2 linked regions of the Homo sapiens genome follow. The protein of the gene in region 1 purifies or fractionates together with the protein of each later gene. This does not show direct contact. Each region holds a gene or a part of one and is shown in the gene's direction. Other genes may lie near its edges.

Region 1 (4,425 bases):
TCAGCCAGATCAAGTGCCTCGCCTAAGGTCATGCAGCTTGGCCAAATCCAAACCCTTGGGTGAGTGGACAGAGGAGCGTCAGCTAGGAGAGGTGGGCGCTGGTCTTACTGGGGAGGAGGGGCCTGCCCCCTGGACTGCTGCCCTGACCTCAGCCCCATCCCATTCTGCCTAGCCCCTTGCTGGGCACTTCCCTCCCCAGGGACAGCCACAGAAAAATGATGATCTCGGCTGGGCGTGGTGGCTCACGCCTGTAATCCCAGCACTTTGGGAGGCCGAGGCAGGTGGATCACCTTAGGTCAGGAGTTCGAGACAAACCTTGCCAACATGATGAAACCCCGTCTCTACTAAAAATACAAACATTAGCTGGGCGTGGTGGTGTGTGCCTGTAGTCCCGGCTACTTGGGAGGCTGAGGCAGGAGAATCACTTGAACCCGGAGGCGAAGGTTGCAGTGAGCCGAGATCAAGCCGCTGCACTCCAGCTCTGGGCAACAGAGCAAGACTCTGCCTCGAAAAAAATAAATAAATAAGAAAGATGATCTCAGGGTCCCTACCCTAGGAGTCAGATGCACGGTGGGGCCATTCCTAGCGCTGCCTGCCCTGGACAGCGCCTGTCTATGCCTGTGGCCCAGCATCATTATGAGGAGTGCTCCCTTGACTCTGGCTGTCCTGATTTGGACACTAGACTTCATGGTCACCCTGGCCACAGGTACCCTATCCTGCATCCTGAGCTCCGCTCTTCCTGGAGTCATGGGCTGGTCTTTCCTCCTGGTGGCCTTGCGCCCCAGCTCCAGCTTCCTGACTTTTCTCTTCTGGAAATGGGAATGCCAAGTCCTATTTCATGGAGTTTTGAGAATGAAATGACTGGTGTACGGTGCAAAGTGCCTGTGAGTGCCCAAGAAATCTCTTTTATTAACAAGACACGAATTCATTCCAATTGATTTGACGGGCCACTGTTGTCACAGCAGCCGCACTGCCCCAAAGGCAGCAGTGATGTTTGAGCGCCGACTCCCCGACGGCACTTGGTCCTCACAACCACCCCATGGAGTTCATGCTAAGATCCTCGCATTTCATTTGTGTGGCAGGGACTTGCTGAGGTCCGGGGAGGGGCAGAGAGGAGGGGTGCGGCCGCCCCGCGCTTTGCACTTTCCGCGTCCTCCAGCAGAGGGGTCGGCCGGCGGGCTCAGCGTCCCGCATAATAGCCGCTTTGAAGCCCGCGGAGCGGGTGGCGGGAGGGGAGGGGAGAGGCGGGAGGGGAGGGGAGAGGCGGGAGGGGAGGGGCGAGGCGGGAGGGAGGGAGGGAGGGGCCGGCAGCGGAGGGAGGGGTGTGTCGGCCGCCCGCGCCGTTCCTCCGCCCCTCGGTCCCGCGGCCACACGCAGCTAGCCGGAGCCCGGACCAGGCGCCTGTGCCTCCTCCTCGTCCCTCGCCGCGTCCGCGAAGCCTGGAGCCGGCGGGAGCCCCGCGCTCGCCATGTCGGGCGAGCTCAGCAACAGGTTCCAAGGTAGGCGCCGCCGTCCCCGAGCAGCCACCTGTGCGCGCCGGGCGGACCGCGGGGTCCACCGCGCGCGGGAAGCGGGCGGGGACGGGGGCGCGTGGCCCGAAGAGGACCCCGCTTCCCAGGCCGCCTCTTTGTCTCCTCCAGGAGGGAAGGCGTTCGGCTTGCTCAAAGCCCGGCAGGAGAGGAGGCTGGCCGAGATCAACCGGGTAAGCCCCGCGCCCAGGGCAGCACGCGAGTCCCGAGCCGCGCGCTGCGCGGGTGCCACCTCTCCTTCCGCGAGGCCGTGCCCGCCTCCAGATCTACCCTCTTCCTTCCCTTCCCCTGGGCTTCCCTCAGGTGCCTCCCTCCGCCCCCAGCCCCGTCGCCTCCGACTCCAGGTAGGTCCGCCTCCGCCTCCCGCCTCCGGTCTCGGGTTGCAAGTTGTTACTCTTGCAACTGGGGACTGGGGAGGTGGGGCCGGGTCAGGAGCTCGGATGCCAGCCGGCTCGTGGCTCCCCGCAAGCCCGCTTGGGAGCAGCCCAAGGATTTGGCGCGGGAAGGGCCCTAGGCCAGTGATCTCTCCAGCTCAGAACACAGGCTCCGGGTCATTTGCTGGTCTGTCGCCCAGGCTGGAGTTCGGTGGCCCAATCTCAGCTCATTGCAGCCTCCACCTTTGGGATTCAAACGGTCCTCCCTCCTCATCCTCCCGAGTAGCTGGGACTACAGGCATGTGCCCCCACGCCTGGCCTTAGCTATTGTTGTTATAAGGGATTCAAAAGTACAAATAGAAGACTCTGATGGGCGTAGAGATCCTGGCACTTCCCCGTGGTCTCCAGCCTCCCGCCTCCCTCAAACACACCACTCCTCTTCACTCCAACTTTCAGGAAAGATTGCCTTAAGGGATTCAATGCTTTTCTTGCTGGTCCTGGTGGATTTCTCAAAAGAAATCTTTCCTGTTGTTGCCAGGCATCCAGTGAGAGCTCCATAAATTTACATAGATTCTAGAAGATAAGGAAAGATATCAGGACCTGTCTGGGTTGGCCAAAGCTCAAAGGCAGCACAGCCAGTGGCTTTAAAGTTCTGCAAGACCTGGGCTCAGATCTGGCCTCCACTGTGTGCCAGCTCTGTGGTCCTCAGCAAAGGGCCTCTCATCTCCAAGCAGGGCATTGTGCAGGCTCAGAGAGGGAAGGCCCGTGGCCTGCATGGCCCAGCACCCAGCATTCAGGAAGCACTCACAGAACTAGCATTATTTCCTGAGGTGGATGTCTCCCAGTTTCCTTCTTAACTGGTGGCAGAGGCACGCCCGCTGAAACAAGGCTTGGCATTCCCCCTGCAGGCTCCTCTGGTCCCCTGGACACCCAGGGTCTAAGCCCAGCTGACAGTCTGGAAGTGGGCCGCTGGTGAGGTCAGCAGAGCCCGAGAAGGCTGTGGGAGGCGGGTCCGAGCCTGGGGCCAGGTTGTGGTATTGCCTCTTGCCAGCAGTGTGCAGCCTTGATTCCCCCTTGGTTTTCTTGGACTGCTTGGATGTAGGCAGCCTGTCTGTTTTCCATCCGCTGGCTACAGGACTCCCATTCGGTCCCCAGCTACAGGGCTCTGGGGACCTCAGGGTTCCCCCTCCAGGTAAGCTCCGGCCTCCTCACCGCCACCCTCACCCTGCTTCCTGGGGGCATCTTGAGCACAACTGGAAGGTTGCCCGGACATCTGGCTGGGGTGCTCAGGGGTCTCGGATCCCTGCTGGGCTCCTTCCCAGATCACTGTGTGCCTGCCCAGCCTGGGGCTTGGCTGCTCTAGCCCTCTGGACAGAAGGCTGGAACCCCGACCTCATATAGCCCCCTGGGTCACTTGGCCAGGCGGGTTCTGAGCTGGCTGGAGCCACCCACAGCCAGCGGGACCCTGAGCCACAGACAGCTGGAGATGGGGGTGAGGTGACCATGGTTGGACAAGCCAGAAGAGCTAAGAGGGCGGGGCCAACCTAGCCCTTGGGGAGGTGGGTTGGGGGAGGGGGCGGCTCCAGGGTTGTTTTGGGAAACCGACTAGCTTGGCTTAGAAAGAGGAGGGACTTTAACAGCTGTCAGGGGCTGATCTGGGCAGCACTGGGACTAGGGAAAGTGAGCAGGAAGGAGCTGTGGTCTAACCACCTCAGGACAGCGCCCAGAGAGGGCAAGCAGCTGACCCAAGGCCACGCAGAAGCCAGTGACAGAGCTTGCAGCCCAGCGTCCTTCCCCTGCCAAGACGCTGTACTGAGACCCACCATGACAGCCCAGCCGCTGTAGGGCTGCTGAGGCCCAGGATCTGGGGCCCTGTAGGAAGGAGGCGCCAGGATCACACGGGAAGCTTGAGCTGCTTCACCACAGTGGAGCAGGGTGGCCCCACCAGTTTAGTCATGAGGTACCCACAAGCACTGATCTGTGACTCTGGGCAAGCCACTCACCTCTCTGAGCCTCCTTCTCCAAAAAGATAATGGTTGTGATTTTTTCAGTGAGACAATCTATGTAAAGCACCCAGGAGAGCTGGCTGCGGCCCTGATAGCTATCAGGACAGTTTCTTTGTTCGTGGCCTCAAGGTGCAGGGAGTGGAAGATACTCCGCCCTGGCTCATGCTGGTTGCTCAGCCCAGCAGAACCTCGTCTTCCCCAGCCTGAAATGGGAGCAGGGATCTCTGCCCCTCTGGAGTCCCTGCAACAATTAACCGATGGAAGTGGATGGAAGCTCTTTGCAGACTGTGGGGGAGTCACTCTGTGTGAGAGTCTGAATTGGTTCACCCACGGCCATGGGGGCAGTGCAGAGGGCCTGAGCTAGGTGGATTGTAGGCAGAATTGTGCTGGCAGCCCGGACTGCCTTCCTTTGGGGTGCAGCTTCACTGCCCCACTGGAGTGTGGATTCTGGGGGCCTGGGCTAAGCCCAGGATTCACTGCCAAAGCCCTGCTTCTGTGCCAGGCAGCTTGGGCACC
Region 2 (4,568 bases), on another chromosome or scaffold:
AGCTGGGATTACAGGCGCCCGCCACCATGCCTGGCTAATTTTTCTATTTTTAGTAGAGACGGGGTTTCATCACATTGGCCAGGCTGGTCTCGAACTCCTGACCTCAAATGATCCACCCTCCTCGGCCTCCCAAAGTGCTGGGATTAAGGGAGTGAGCCACTCACCGTGCCCGGCCGAGATCACCTTTAAATAAACTATTGGCACTCAAAGCTCTGTCTCAGGGTCTATTTTGGAGGCACCAAGAACCAAAACATCACTCCATTGCTAAATTCATTTTAAAATGACAATCTTGGATCCCTGGAGAGGCAAACTCAAAACCTGTTTGGGTGGTGCTTGCAACCCAGCCAACAGGAGCTGCTCTTAGCTCTGATTTTTGCTTGAACAATGCTATAGTGAGGTTGTGTTGATTTAGGATGCCCTGCTCAGCCTATATTAATAATAATAGTAATAAGAGCTACTGTTTACCAAGAGCTTACTGTGCGGCAGATTCACATGCTTCATTTCATTTAATCCTCACAGTGACTCCGTAGGGAGGGTACTATTACTATTTCCATTGTATTGATGAAGATCCTGAGGCTCATGGAGGTTAAATAACTTTTCAAAGTTACATAGCTAGTAAGAGGCAGATTGCTGGTGTGCTTCAGCAGTGTGTTAAAATGTGTAGATAACTATAAATATTCTTCTGTTATATTTTTGTGTAAATGGGAACAATAGTACTTGGCAGATAAAATTTGCATCGTTAACAATACCATAAACATAGTGTAATGCAAGGATCTCCCAATCAGGTGAGAGCCTCAAGAGGATAAAACTGTTCCCTAGGCCAAGGTGGGCAGATTGCTTAAGGCCGGGAGTTAGAGACCAGCCTAGGAAACATGGCGAAATTTCATCTCTACCAAAAATATATATATTAACAAAGTTTAGCTGGGCATGGTGACTCACGCCAGTAGTCCTAGCTCCTTGGGAGGCTGGGAGCAGAGGTTCAGTCAGCCACAATTGTGCCATTGCATTCCAATCTGGGTGACAGAGTGAAACCCTGCCTCAAAAAACAAAACAAACAACAACAACAAAAAAACGGCTCCCTGCCATGCCTGGCTTGGTACAGCTTATGCACTGGGCTTGGGTTACTAGTGGTAACTAAGACTTTTCCAGCATTATTTAAGTTGTGTAGAATCTTCCAATGTTTTGACCTCTGTTAAAGTCAAACTTCTCTTTGGACTCGTCCCTTCACAATCCCCAGGCTAGATGATCAAAACGCAGCCATCTTACTTAAATATGACAATATTCAGTGAGATGCGCTACAGATTTTTGCACAAGTTCAAGCTTTCTTGGAACAACACATCCCTGTTAGTAATATCCGGCCCCACCTAGTAACCGAGGTAGACATAGAAACTTAGATCTTAAGAAGATGTCTTTCCCAATTACTATCTTCTCTAAGACTCCATAAAGAAAAACAGACTTTGAACCCAAGTTATCTTATTTATTTGACCCTGCTGTCATAAAGCGTTCAAATTCAAGTATTATAAAGGATTGTAACAGGGAAAGCATTTAGGGTTTTCAGGCAGAGGAACAGTTGGCCAAGGAAGTCAGCTTCTCAGAGCTCAAGAGGTAAGTGGTAAGACTGTCTTATATAGAAAGTAGAGAGTCATACAGATTAAAAACAAGCCAAGTGAGGGGAATACATTTTGAAAAGTTGCTGTCTCGGTGGAGTGGAGGGAAAGAGAAGACATAGATTTGTCCCCTTAATAGGGCTGGGTGAGGTCTGGCAAGAAGCCTGCACTCTCAGTTTTTATTGAGTACTTGTAGTGCAGAGCGCTTGAGAAAACTCTACTATTGACCACATTCTGCAGTAATCACTGTTACAACACTGTGATAGAAATCTTTTTGGCAAATATTTAAAATTACAAAAGAATCAATATTAGTAGTAATTGCATCTTACGAAAAGATTGATGCAGGCTTGTCTGCCAGAAAGGGTGAGCCTGGCATGAATGAAACTTACTCCTGTCAGGGCACGCCTGGGACAGGGGAGGAGTAGAGTAGGTATAGGTATATTTCAGCTCTTGTAAATTAATACTGGTGTTAAGGGGAGAGAACTCCCAGTGGCCAGGGACTGGAAAAGATTAACAGCAGCTTTTTTTTATTTTTTTATTTTTTATTTTTATTTTTTGAGACCGAGCCTCACTCTGTCGCCCAGGCTGGAGTGCAGTGGCATAATCTTGGCTCACTGCAACCTCCACCTCCCAGGTTCAAGCAATTCTCCTGCCTCAGCCTCCCGAGTAGCTGGGATTACAGGCGCTCGCCACCATGCCTGGCTAATTTTTTTTTTTTTTTTTTGCATTTTTAGTAGAGATGGGGTTTCACTATGTTGGTCAGGCTAGTCTCAAACTCCTGACCTCAGGTAATCCACCTGCCTCAGCTCCTAAAGTGCTGGGATTACAGGCATGAGCCACTGCACCCAGCCTAACAGCAGCTTCTTAAAGGAAAAGAATATTAATCTAGGCAGTAGATTGGGTAGTAGGGTGGTTGAGAGTAGGGTGGTTAAGAGCATGGTCTTGGGAGTCTGGGTTCAAATCCCGACCTTGACATTTACTGTCTGTGGGATCTCAGGCAAATTACATAGTCTCTTTAAATCTATAGAAACGACCTCAGGAGGGTTGTTAGGAGGCTTAATTGTGACTGAAATGATGTATGTAAAGTGTTTAGCACAGTCCCTGTTGCGCAGAAAGTTTTCCGTATGTGGTTCGCTATATTTATAGTAGTACTCTTGAAAGGAAGTAATGAATATATGTTTTTTTCCCAGATGGAAATGGAGAATATCTTAGGGAGAGGGAGAGTTGAAGCAAAAGCAAGAAGGGAGAAAGGACACCTTTATTATTTATTATTTTTAGTCCATTGGGTCAAGGGGAAGAGAGAGAGAGAATAGTGGGAGAAAGACAAGATTAACATGGTTTAAACTAGAGGCCATGTTTCAATTGAGGCTTTTCTACGTACACACCATTTGAATCTATGGGATTTGGAGTAGTCTCAAAAACTCTCTATTATCAGAGAACATCTTTACAAAAATGACCCAAGAAAAACTTTCAGAACAAGAATTACTTTGTTCAGTAGGGACTGTCTGAGAATGAGACAAGTTTCATTCTGCTAAAATGAAATTCTATCAGTTTCTCTAGGGAAGACTGGTTTCATCTTCCCCAGGGCACCCTGACGCTGCTCTATCTGTCATAGCCTATTTCCTGTGGTTTTATGTTGCTTTTAAAAAAAATTTCTTACTACTAAATGTACTTTGAACTTAGTCAGACAGGGTTGTTTAATTAAAAGCTAGAAGTAGTACCGTTATAGCTGGGATGATTCATCTGGGACTTCACTTTAAATGCATAATAGACAGAAGGAAGGTTCACGAACTCATTGCAGACCAAAGTACAAAACCAACTGCACTATTTTTCCCTTAGTAGATCTGAGTTTAACTCATTAAAGATGGCATGGAAGAGCAGTGTCATAATGCAAATGGGAAGATTTCTTCTCTTAGTAATTTTATTTCTGCCACGTGAGATGACAAGTAAGTTAAAGTTCTTTTTGGCCTCTTTTTAGATAAAGAAAAATTTCCGATTAAGAAAAGTGATCAATGGGCATTGGATATATCCTTAAATTCCAAATTGGAATGACTACACAGTTAGCATGGCTCACAGTACAGGAGTCAACTAACAATAAAAAATCAAATGGAGGCCAGGCGGGTGGCTCACGCCTGTAATCCCAACACTTTGGGAGGCCGAGGCAGGTGAATCATGAGGTCAGGAGATCGAGACCATCCTGGCTAACACGGTGAAACCCCATCTCTACTAAAAATACAAAAAATTAGCCTGGTGTGCTGGCAGGCGCCTGTAGTTCCAGCTACTCGGGTGGCTGAGGCAGGAGAATGGCGTGAACCCAGGAGGTGGAGCTTGCAGTGAGTGAGCCGAGATTACGTCACTGTACTCCAGCCTGGGCGACAGGGCGAGACTCCGTCTCAAAAAAAAAAAAAAAAAAATCAAATGGAAAAATATTGTTTTTAGGGTTTTATTATTACAAGACAAGGTGAAGTATTCTATTCTCTCCAGAGCCACCACCAGAATCCTCCTACATTTTAATGCATTTTATTACTAATGTTACCCCAAATAATCATCTGTTTATCTGAACATACCATTTCACATGAAAATCTTTCCAGCATTTGCTCTCCTACCACTCTTTTCTGATTTTAAAAGTAATGCATAGTCATTGTAAAATAAATCAGGCAATCTATAAAAAAAAAAAGAAAAGTACAAATCCCCCCAAATACTTTCATCCAGAGATGACAACCACTCAATATTCCATATTTTAATAAAATACTAGACAACAATACCATTATCTTTACAAGTAGCTTAAGTTTTTTGCTTTTTTGAGAAGAAGTCTCACTTTGTTGCCCAGGCTGGAGTGCAGTGGTGTGATCTTGGCTCACTGCAACCTTCATCTCCCAGGTTCAAGTGATTCTCCTGCCTCAGCCTCCCGAGTAGCTGGGATTACAGGAGCCCGCCACCATGCCTGGCTAATTTTTTTGT

Evidence for each region.
Region 2: the proteins of AIF1L (region 1) and TMIGD1 purify together in Homo sapiens (co-immunoprecipitation; one study listed by IntAct). This does not show direct contact.

The regions. Positions count from the first base shown.
Region 1 is NC_000009.12:131,095,162-131,099,586, forward strand, and holds the start of AIF1L (allograft inflammatory factor 1-like), read left to right. Parts: upstream 1-1,369; 5' UTR 1,370-1,468; coding exon 1,469-1,499; intron 1,500-1,618; exon of another isoform or gene 1,619-1,640; coding exon 1,641-1,702; intron 1,703-4,425. UniProt on the Homo sapiens protein: Actin-binding protein that promotes actin bundling. May neither bind calcium nor depend on calcium for function.
Region 2 is NC_000017.11:30,331,037-30,335,604, reverse strand, and holds the start of TMIGD1 (transmembrane and immunoglobulin domain-containing protein 1 isoform 1 precursor), read left to right. Parts: upstream 1-1,547; 5' UTR 1,548-1,605; intron 1,606-3,446; 5' UTR 3,447-3,471; coding exon 3,472-3,553; intron 3,554-4,568. UniProt on the Homo sapiens protein: May control cell-cell adhesion, cell migration and proliferation, cell morphology, and protects renal epithelial cells from oxidative cell injury to promote cell survival.